Homo sapiens: one gene and its partners. The protein of the gene in region 1 purifies or fractionates together with the protein of each later gene. This does not show direct contact. Each region holds a gene or a part of one and is shown in the gene's direction. Other genes may lie near its edges. The genes, in order: CYRIB, LANCL1 and PDC.

Region 1 (3,389 bases):
AAAATGTTTAAAAATAGTTTTTAAAAGATTATGAAAAGTGTTGCATAAGCGGTAGCTGCCTGAATAAAGGTGATCTATTCTAAATGAACATCAGCAAGATTAAGGAACATAATTTAAAATCCTTATAATGTCAAACTATTTTAACCATAAGCCTAGTTTTTAGAATTCTGTATTCTTGGGGTTTTTACAACGCATACTTCAGTGGTTTTGCCAATATTTAATGATATCATGAGTCTTTCCTCCTTGGTTTCTTTCTGAATACTCCCTGTGTCTCAGTCAACCTGATTTTTCTCCCAAGACTTTGTCTTTCTGATTGGTCAGGCTCTTTGAAGCCAGCAAGTGGCAGGAAATCTTTTTTAAAAACTTGAAGGTAATTGAGATCTAGGAGGTTTTAGGATTCTTTCTTGAGCTTGAAGGTAGTATGCCTAACTCAGAATCTACGTTTCACTTTAAGGGTAGTTCAGTTTCCTTTTCCTTAGAATGAAAGCAGAGGAGACCAGTGATGGCGAGTGAAAGACAGGGTTGAAGTCTCCCACAAAGTAATCTGTGTTTGAGGGAGAGGGGAGGGAAGGAAAGCACCACGGAGGCAAGAGTCACCTGTCAGTTTGGTACATTTTCTTTCCTATTATAATAGATAATGGAAACTAGAAAATAAAATGTTGCTTTTAGAAACAACAAAATCAGGTCTGACTTGGGACTCAGGCACTTTCCTTTTAAACAAACACCCTAGCTGATGTAGATAATGCTGATACTTTGAAAAATATTTCTTAAAGGAAATCCATCTAGCCTTTAATATGTTTTACTGAGAGCACATGTTTAGAAAGCATTTTGTAACCCCAAAAGTACTACACGAGTGTTACACACCTCCACAAAATAGAACTTAAAGACCAAAAGATTTTAAATGAGAGAATAGTTCCATATGTATGTATATGTTTGTTTTGAATGCTTTCCTGTAGTAATTATTTATATAGAACTTCCTGTGCTACTAAGAGAAGGCATCAAGTCATATGTCCATTTTACAGGTGGAAAAATGGAACCAAATACATTTAATCATAAGAGGGAAAGAAAAAAAGAGAGCTGGGAGTTCAGATTCAGTAGTAGATAATTGTCTTCTTTATTAAATTTAAGAGTAAAGGTAAATAATAATTGGTTTTCTTTAGTAAAACAGTCGCACTTGGAAAAAAAATTTGTTTTTGTGCACAAAGGAAAATAATGCCATATATCTTCATGTTTTATTTTCACGTATATTAGATAATATTGGCCTTTTCTTGATAAGTGAGTGTGGTGATGCAGTGTGCTCTGGATTGGCTTTGTCCAAAGAAGGAAGCCAAGATCACATCCCACAGAAGGAGCGAGAACTTGCGTCATGGGTAGAGAGGAAAACACTTAGCACTCTTTGAATAGTACAGTACATTGCTGAGTAGTGATACTTTTAACTACTCTGCAGTAGAAATTTTACTGTGCACATTGCTTGGCTCTTTCTACTATTTAGTTGTATAAAGAAGTGGAGGAGAAACAAATGAAGAATTTTGAGAACTACGAGACATCTGTAGGATTTCGTGTAATTGCGTATACTTTATCTACATAAAGAGAACAAAAAGGTTAAATCCTTGTGACATCACTTAGCATTTAATGTCAATATTCCTTTATGGATTTTTTTTTCTTTCCAACCTGGCTGCTTATCTTGTCTTCCTTCCGCAAGTATTTATTGAGCACCATTTATGTGCCAGGCACGCTGATACCTATTCAAAAACATGAGAACAGTTTGGGAGTGACTTCTCAGTAACATTGTAGACAGTATATCAGGTACTTAATAAGCATTCTTCGGTTTTTAAATTAATTTGAAATGAACCTAATAGGAATTGGGTTTAAATTTCTTAAACACAGAAAGATCTATGTGGACCTGCTGAAAAGGATGTAGTCCTAGCTGGGCATGGTGACACACACCTGTCATCCCAGCTACTTGTGAGCCCAAGGCAGGAGGATTGCTTGAGCCCAGGAATTGAAGGCCAACCGGGGTAATATAGCCAGACCTTATCTCTAGAAAAAACGATCTAGTCCTTAAGATTATATGTGGAATTCTTGTGAACCAGATTTCTCTGTCTGGGTTATCTCCAAAATACAGTCCACATTCACGCATTGAACACCTGTCTCCATTGCTGCTGTAATCTGGCCCAAGCCTTGACATCTGATTATCTCACACTTGGTGCTCAGTAACAGCCCCCTTATTTAATGCCTCCCTGCTGCTCCTTCTGTTCTCCACAGCTTGCCCTCAACAGCCAGAATGATAAAACTTAAGTGGCAGCACACCCCTCTCCTGCTTAATATGCTCCACTGGCTTTTACTGCACTTAAAATAATCTCCAAACTCCTTACTATGTATGGCCTCTGGGTGTCCATGGGAGATGGTGTTTCCCTGTCTCTGTATGTAGCCTCTTCTTGTTATACTTCTCTCCTTTGCTGCTAGGCTTTACCCTGTCACTAATATTAGTGTATCATTATCTTTCTCCGTCTGCTAGGTTGTAAGCTCCTTGAACAGTGCCTGAGACATAGTAAGCTTGCTTAGTGGATTTTTACTGTTTAAGGGAATACTGTTGTGAATCTTTATAATAATCACTCTTTGTGATTCTTTTTTGGATTCTTATGTTGGATTTGCATGCATGTAGCAAAACACATGCCTAGAAATAAGGCACTTGGGAGAATTGAGACATTTTAGAGATATAACAGCTGTAGTAATTGAGGCATCTTAAATACAGAATAGAAAAGGGGTTGAAACACTTTTCTGTAAAGAGCCAGAGAGTAAGTAGATATTAAAGGCCTTGTGGGCCACATGGTTTCTGTTACAGCTCCTCACCTCTGCCACCATAACAAGAAAGTAACCATAGATGATACATGAATGAGTCAACTTGGTGTGTTTCAGTAAAACTTTTATATGTAAGCACTGAAATTTGAATTTCATAGAATTTCCACAATAACACATGAAATATTACTATTTCTTTTTTTGTCTTCCTTTGCCCCCCAGTCATCCAAAAGGTTAAAAAATAGAATTAGCTCACAGTCCACAAAAAAATTGGTGGATTGGATGGCCCATGGGCTATAATTTGCCAGCCTCTGGGATAGAACAGCATTTTCTTCTGAGGGAGAAGTTACAGCTAATTGTTTACTTGAGAGGTCAACCAATCATTTCAGCAGTGTAGTTGTAACTAAGTTAAATAGCTGCTAAATAGCTACTGGCTATTCAGTTAGAAAGGGGGTGAGGATGACAGGCTGTGCAGAACCTGAACAGGGTTAAAGCTACAATGAGAAGCCATAATTTTGTGAGTTTTGCTGAGACCAATTCTCCATCCTGTCATAATTAGAGAACCCGATGCTGATTATTTTTTAAGTTCC
Region 2 (3,655 bases), on another chromosome or scaffold:
GGAACCATTGTCAAGATGTATTGTTAAATAGCAAGCTGTAGAATATTTATACATATGTATATTTATGCTTATGTGTACATAAAATCTAGGAATACACACAAAAAAATGGTAACCATGGTGATTTCTGAGGAGAACTAGAAGGCTGGGAGACTGAGGAGATGGAGACCTGACTGACACCTCTTGTACTATTAATATTTGCATGTATTGGCCAGTTGCAGTGGCTCACACCTATAATCCCAGCACTTTGGGAGGCTGAGGCAGGCTGATCACCTGAGGTCGGGAATTGGAGACCAGCGTGACCAACATGGAGAAACCCCGTCTCTACTAAAAATACAAAATTAGCCAGGTGTGGTGGTGTGTACCTATAATCCCATCCCCTCGCGAGGCTGAGGTAGGAGAATCACTTAAACCTGGGAGGCGGAGGTTGCGGTGAGCCGAGATCACGCCATTGCACTCCAGCCTGGGCAAGAAGAGCGAAACTGTCTCAAAAAAAAAAAAAAATGTACATGTATTATTGACTGTGATAGATGAAACCTACTTCAAGTAGGCCTGGTGACACATTAAGAAATAAACCAAGGAAGGAGATGATGGGCCATTTGAGTGTTGGCTTAGTCCTTTCTCTGGGCTAAATGCCCTAAAAGCCAGCAGTTCTTGGCTTCTTTGACCCCAACTGCTAAAATACTCACCTTAGGGCCTGCCTCCATGAGGAACTAGGGAGATTTCAGATAGCCTCAGCCATACATTTGTATTCTTTCATTTTATGAATGTATTTGTCAGTTCCATTGTTAAGTGAAGAAATTTAATGGAGGGCTAATCTGTGAACCGTGACTGTTCTATAAATAGATATTATATATGTATAAATACATATTTTGTGTGCATGTATATTTTTTTCAATGTACCATTTTTAAGTATACACCAATACCTGGTTCCTTTCAAATTATTTGGGGCATGTATTTTTATTTTTAGGCTAATTCACCTAAATAAGATTGATCCTCATGCTCCAAATGAAATGCTCTATGGGCGAATAGGCTACATCTATGCTCTTCTTTTTGTCAATAAGAACTTTGGAGTGGAAAAGATTCCTCAAAGCCATATTCAGCAGGTACCACGTTTTTGTGTTTTTAGGAGCCTTTTTAGGATCCCATTTACTTACTATCTGCCTAAACTATTGTTTATGTCTCTGTAGTTAGCACATTCCATATAAAGGAAGGTGTATCTGGACCTCTAAAGGTTGGGCACAGTCCAAGAACCAATAGCTTTCTACGGAGTGCTGTTGGAAACATTTCTGTCTCAAGAGTCCGAAGGCCAGTCTGCTCCATTTCAGAATTTAGAGGCCCTCTCCAAAGAGGATTAGAGCCAAATTTCACCTCCCAGATGGAGGATCTCCTTTGGTGGTGCCTAGAGGAGTTTATGCTTTTCTTTGACAGGCGAACTCTTGTAAACTGTAATGCAAAGAGCTCAAGATCCTCTACGCCCTCCCCCTTCTAGGCTAAATACAGTCCCACACACTTCTCTGATGGAGAATTAAACTGTGCCTTTCCCTGGCTATAAGCTGGTGTCTAATTTGTCATGTTCCCCAGTACCTCTTAGCAAAAAAGTCTTTACCTCCTCCAGGAAGATTTTTGTTCAGTTAACTTGTTATTTTGGTTGGTTTTCTCCCTGTAGATTTGTGAAACAATTTTAACCTCTGGAGAAAACCTAGCTAGGAAGAGAAACTTCACGGCAAAGTCTCCACTGATGTATGAATGGTACCAGGAATATTATGTAGGGGCTGCTCATGGCCTGGCTGGAATTTATTACTACCTGATGCAGGTAAGGAGTGATTATGGTGAAATTTTAAAATGTCCTTCCTGACCCATGTACTATCATGGGTGAGAAAACAGATATTCTAGTTCTAGTTTGTCATTCTGTCAACCACTGCATTACAGTACTCTCCTTGTAATTACTTGTCCTAGACAAACAAAAGTAATGTTTACGAAGGTGCCTTTAAAAGTGTATAAACATTAAAGGCCCTGCGTTTTAAAATGATGTTTGATTTGCAGGTGATCGTGCTTGCCCACTTAGTGCCACTTGTGCAGACTAAAGTGTTTTGACTTATAATTCTGTATGAAGTGCCTCTGCTCTGCTCTTTCAGCCAGTGCTTTGAATTAAAACTATTATTCCACATTAAAAGGTACAACTGATTCCAACAAATTCCAGGAATAAGAACAAAATCAATAGAAAACAAATGAGCACTTGTTGCCTAATGCTCACTTAGAGAGCAAAGCTGAGGAGACTTCTACTTACCTGAAAAACAGCTGAATATGCTCTGCCCTACAGTTCTTGGGATCTAATACTATTGGGGCACATCAACCAAAGTCAAATAGACTAAAGACAGATAGAATTTACTGCAGCAGACATAACTTGGGAGAGATCAGAAGAGGACTTCTCAGGAGAGCATCATTTTGGGAGACTTACGAAGCTCTCCTTAAGGAGAAACTGGCACTTCTGAATAAGAATTCATGGCAAAGAAAATTGATTTTTAATGGCAGCAGAGGTACCCCTGTCACCTTCCCAAGGCACACTGTGGCATAAAGAAAAGTGTTTCATTAACGTGTTCAGCAGGAGTGCTTGGATATACATACTACCAGCTCTTTGAGTAGCTGGCTCTTATAATACAAGATCAGTGTTGGACCTGCCCTCTACCTATAAATAAACAAGGACAACAGAACTGAAAAACTCAAGATTATTATTATTTTTGAATGCAGAGTCACACATTGAGTGTTAGTGGCAATCAGAGACTAGCGTATTTATTCTACACTTTTCAATTAGAGGTTATATAATTAGGATGTTGACATTTAGACTTAAATTTCTTTATTTTTCTGGTGCATGTCTTCCTCTCTATTCCCAGTAGTAAATGTAGATTCCTAAAAGCTTTCAGGAAAGAAGAGTCTTCTGAAGTTTCAAGGTTAGTTAGAATCAAACATACTAGAGGCCCTCTCCAAAGAGGATTAGACAGCCTTATCGAAATTTCATTGAAACAAATAATCAGGAGACATAGTTGGTTAGTGACTAGACAGCCTCATCAAACTTTCATTGAAACAAATAATCAGGAGACATACTCTGCCTCCTTGTGTTAGCTGTAGTAAGAAATCTGAAAACCCAAGTATTGATTTTTCCATTTGCAGGTTATCATCTCTTTGAAATGATTTAATTTTTAATCCTGAAAGTCTATTCTAGTAGGTACGCCTTCATCAACATAAAATAAAACATCATTATTTTTAGGCCATGTTGGGTAATTCCTGCAAGTTTGAGGAGAGTCCACTCATTCTACTGTAACACTCTGAGCTTAAATGCTATTCTTTGTATGAAATGAAATCTGCCTTCTAAACAACTCAGTCCACTTTCAGAATCTTGTGGAAGTCATATTGTCAGCATTGCTTTGACCCCACCACGACCGCCTCCTGCCTGTGCTTCACACCACTGCCCACCCCTCACCACCACATGCCCCACACCTTGCCTAGTGAAACAGCACTTTGAATCTGTTAAAGACATTAGCAGTCATTGAATTAAGAACAGGACCAAAAGGAGAAACTAAAATGTGTATCAAAAATGGTGGCTCATATGCTGTATGTCAGTATGTCCTATGGATCTGTACGTTGTTATGTCAAAATAA
Region 3 (4,444 bases), on another chromosome or scaffold:
CCAGAGATAGCACAAAATAAAAAGCAAATTATGGAAATATCTGTGTTGGGAAGGTGGGGGTAGGATAGGAATTGCTATAGTAATTTTTTTTTTACCGTTAAGTCTCTATGCTTGTGCCTATATTACATATTTGAACATATGAGTACCAAGCTATATTTGACAGTAACTTAAAACATATTTTTTGAATGTTAAAACCACTATGACATTTTTTATCATCAAACTGAAATATTAAATTTCTTCACATTTGCCATCAGAAGGCATCTTTTAAGTTACATTTGTATTGCACCTGACTACATTCTAGATTCTTTAGCTAGAGAGAAAACACTCAGTTCATAAAAACTGAAAGTGAATTGCCCTGAGAAACTCTGTTGAAAAGCATATGTATAGCACACAAACTGGAACATGAAACCTGCTAAATGGGAGGTAAAAATTTGATTTAAGGATGAAAATGAAAGTTAATTTAGAAAATACTTTGATTTCTGGAAGAATCTCTTTGAAAATATTTATGGTTGTGACTCTCTTAAATATTGTAAATTTTATGTACTCTTCTCTATTCTTGAAATCAAATTCTACAATAAAAAATATATAAGCAAACAAAGTTCTGAAATGTGACAGGTTTCCCTCTTACTAACAAAGAGTAAATAAATGACAAATTAATTTAGTATAATAAAACATAACTATTAAAATTTATTTAGACACTATCACTGTTTAAATTGCATTAAGATCCACTTAAAGTTTCTGGGTGAAGCTACATATGACTAAACCTTATAATTTAAAAATCTAAATGTGTTCATTTTAATTGCCATTAATATTAAAAATTTTGTCCTCTTGCTAATTAAAAATTTCCAGTTTTAAGCTTAGAGTAAATTAAATCTCCTACTTTGGCAAAGTTAGATGAGAATTTGGCTGTGAGGATGAAAGATGTTAGGAAAAGATGGAAGATTAAACACATGCATCTACTTCCCCTACATCTCAAAACTCCATTAAAAAACAGCAGGAAAGGAATTTTTAATGGTAAAAACCAGAAACAATAAGGAGAAGTGAAAAGGAGAAAATGCCAATAAAACTAGAATCCAGAAAGCAAGTAGATCTGTAAAGACAGCCCATCTGAAAAAATTGTATTAAAAGCCTGTAGTAAGAGAAGATGAAAATCATAGTATCTCTCTTATTCCTCCCAATGTTGTAGTAATCATAGCACTTCATTGTGATTATCTTTTTACTTACCTGTCTCCCCCACTAGACTGCAAGCCTCACGATATAGGAAATAGGGTTTATTTGTCTTTGTACCCTAGTGCCTAGCTACTGCTTGTTTCACACAAAGTAGGTGCTCAGTAGATGATTATGGGACTAATGAATACAACTCATGTTATTGCGATAAATAGTACTAATAATGACCTCTGTCTCTCATCTATTCAATGTGTTCTGTAAAATATAAACTGACTACTCTTTGTTTGGTTTTGCCTTATTATTAATGAACTGGCCTTGCTAATTCTGTCAATCCTATTACTTGTTCAGAGCTATTTCTGCAAGGGTCATCAATATCTGGAGATTTTAAATCTGAGCTTAAACCTATTGAAGTTCAAGACGAGTTCAGTAGACAGGGATTCTCACCCACTCAACAAGGACACCAGGCACAGAGATCCAAACTGTGAGTCCACAAGTAGTCCTTTTGATAATATAATTTTAAAAATTTTACCTTAGGGGAAAGAATGGTGATTCACTGTTTATGTATTATTGTGTTAATGTAAAATAGTTCAAAGTACATAAGGTTTTGAATTATCTACTATAAAGACAATTAAATACAGCGTATCCTTCTCTCTTTCAGTGATTTCCACCAGTCATCTTCACTAATACAGATTCAGAGTAAACACGCAATTTTGAGCCTGATATTCTAGACTGTTAAAATAAGACCATGAATGGAGAACTCATTTTGCAATTTTAAATTTCCTTTGAGTGAAGGGAGAACTAAAGAGAATAAATGATGAGTCCTTGCACTTTATGTTTGAAGATCTGGCTCCCAAGTTGGAAAAGGAGTGCGGTAGTTGCCCCTTATCCAAGGGGGATATGTTCCAGGACCCCCACTGGATGCCTAAAACCATAGATAAAACTGAACCTTGTGTGTATACTATGTTGTTTTCCTGAACATACATACCTGTGATAAAGTTTAATTTATAAATTAGACACAGTCAGAGGTTAACCATAATCACTAATAATAAAATAGAACCTTTATAACAATATGCTACCATCACAACACTTGCGCTTTGGGACCTTATTAAGTAAATAAGGGTTACTTGAACACAAGCACTGCAATAGTCAATCTGATAACCAAGACAGTAATGCATATGGTGTGGATATGGTATACAAAGAGATGTTTCATGTTCCAGGCCAGAGAGAGCAGGATAGTGTGAGATTTCATCAAGCTACTCAGTACACTGCAAATCTAAAACTTGCAAATTGTTTATCTCTGGAATTTTTCATCTAATATTTTTGGACCAAGGTTGACCAAGGGTAACTGTAATCACAGAAAGAAAAACCTCAGATAAGTGAGGACTGCTGTATTCATCCGGCGCTAAGGCATGTTTTGAGGCTTTTCCTTAGTAGTATGTTGTTGTGGCGGTGGTTTGTTGGTGGTTTTTAATTTTTAAAGTAGAAATAATGTTTGTTTTGAAAGGTTACTTTAGAAATTTAATGAAACAGAAATAATGTTTTTAAAAGAAAAGAACACAGAGTTTGTTGATATTTCTTAAATTCAGTGAAAATTTTCTTTCAATTGGTTTTTTTTTTTCTATTTTGTTTCCATGGAGGTTATTATTATTACTAATAAACCTTACAGTTTGCATCATGAAAATGAGTGCAGTAATTGATTTGCAATGGAGTATTTTTATTAACTGCAAAAATAGCTTCTAACTATAGAGTCCATTTTAAATATATATATATATATATATATATATATACACACACACACATATTGTCCATTGTACCTGCTACTTAGAATCACCTCATATTAAAGCTAGAAAAAACTTTAGAGATCATCTAATTCATCATGACAATTTCTGCCCAAATACTATGTTTATAAGTGGATTTGATATTATATAAGTCATTATCAAAATATATATGAACCATTCATAATAATGTCTGTAATGGAATTCAAACAATATGTACAGGAATATGTATATTTACAAGATAAACAGATACTTTAAAAAAGATGGCTGTTATGAATTTCTAAAATTCTATTTTCTCCAGAACAAGTAAAAGAATATCTGTATGTCTGCAATCCCGGCACCTCGGGAGGCCAAGGCTGGCGGATCACTCGCGGTTAGGGGCTGGAGACCCGGCCAACACAGCGAAACCCCGTCTCCACCAAAACCAGTCAGGCGTGGCGGCGCGTGCCTGCAATCGCAGGCACTCGGCAGGCTTAGAGCTTGTTAAAGATTCCTGGGTCCCACTTCAGATCTGCAAAGCAGGATCTTAGAATCTAGGGCCTGAAAAGGAGGAAGGGTCCTGGTAAATATCCCCAGGCTTTCTTTTTCTTTTTTTCTTTTTTTGAGTTGGAGTCTCATTCTGTCCCCCAGGCTGGAGTGCAGTGGCGAGATGTCGGCTCACTGCAACCTGCGCCTCCCAGGTTCAAGCGATTCTCCTGCGTCAGCCTCCGGAGTATCTGGGACTACAGGCACCCACCACCACGCCCGGTTAATTTTTGTACTTTTTGTAGAGATGGGGTTTTGCCATGTTGCCCAGGCTGGTCTTGAATTCCTGCGCTCAAGTGATCCACCTGCCTTGGCCTCTCAAAGCGTTGGGATTACAGGCGTGAGCCACCGCGCGCAGCCTCTCCAGGCTTTCAGCTGGGACCATGAAGGGCTCCACTCTTTGTGGTGATGATCAGAGGGGCGTATGCCCTCCATAACACTCCCATTCTTCATCTTTTCTCATATTCCAGGAGACTGGCCCAAACAGGACTGTTGAGTGGCTCTAAGGCTTTTAGACGTCAAAAGGGTTTATAAGAATAATCATCATAATATAGTTATGAATCAGAAACATGCATACATTTTCTTAAATGACCCTGTGGGGACTGGAGTTAAAAAGGGAGGAGTACCCAGATGCAGGCGTCTAGCAGAATGGACTTGCTTGAGAATATCAAGCAAGACAGCCAAAGAGGACTCCTAGGATTGTCTCACCAGGACTTCTGAGGCGACTCTAATGAAATGACTTAAAAGTGTGGTGGAGTGGCTTCTGTGGCTCCCACACCTGCCTAATCCTGGTTGATATTGCACAACCAGCGTGCACTGACAATCTCTGGGAAAAAAGCAAGGTCTAATATTCAAAGCTTGGCAAACATGACCAAGACTTTTTCTCTTTCCTTTGAATTATTTTAGTTCCCTAATTTTTTGTCCCAGATGCCACTTAATTCTTTTTATTTTGTATTAAAAGTTGTGCTCTTGTCTCA

Evidence for each region.
Region 2: the proteins of CYRIB (region 1) and LANCL1 purify together in Homo sapiens (affinity purification with western blotting; one study listed by BioGRID). This does not show direct contact.
Region 3: the proteins of CYRIB (region 1) and PDC purify together in Homo sapiens (affinity purification with mass spectrometry; one large-scale study listed by BioGRID and IntAct). This does not show direct contact.

What each region holds. Positions count from the first base shown.
Region 1 is NC_000008.11:129,842,238-129,845,626, reverse strand, and holds part of CYRIB (CYFIP-related Rac1 interactor B), read left to right. Parts: intron 1-3,389. UniProt on the Homo sapiens protein: Negatively regulates RAC1 signaling and RAC1-driven cytoskeletal remodeling. Regulates chemotaxis, cell migration and epithelial polarization by controlling the polarity, plasticity, duration and extent of protrusions.
Region 2 is NC_000002.12:210,438,755-210,442,409, reverse strand, and holds part of LANCL1 (glutathione S-transferase LANCL1), read left to right. Parts: intron 1-966; coding exon 967-1,102; intron 1,103-1,665; coding exon 1,666-1,812; intron 1,813-3,655. UniProt on the Homo sapiens protein: Functions as a glutathione transferase. Catalyzes conjugation of the glutathione (GSH) to artificial substrates 1-chloro-2,4-dinitrobenzene (CDNB) and p-nitrophenyl acetate.
Region 3 is NC_000001.11:186,458,263-186,462,706, reverse strand, and holds the start of PDC (phosducin), read left to right. Parts: upstream 1-1,592; 5' UTR 1,593-1,648; intron 1,649-4,444. UniProt on the Homo sapiens protein: May participate in the regulation of visual phototransduction or in the integration of photoreceptor metabolism. Inhibits the transcriptional activation activity of the cone-rod homeobox CRX.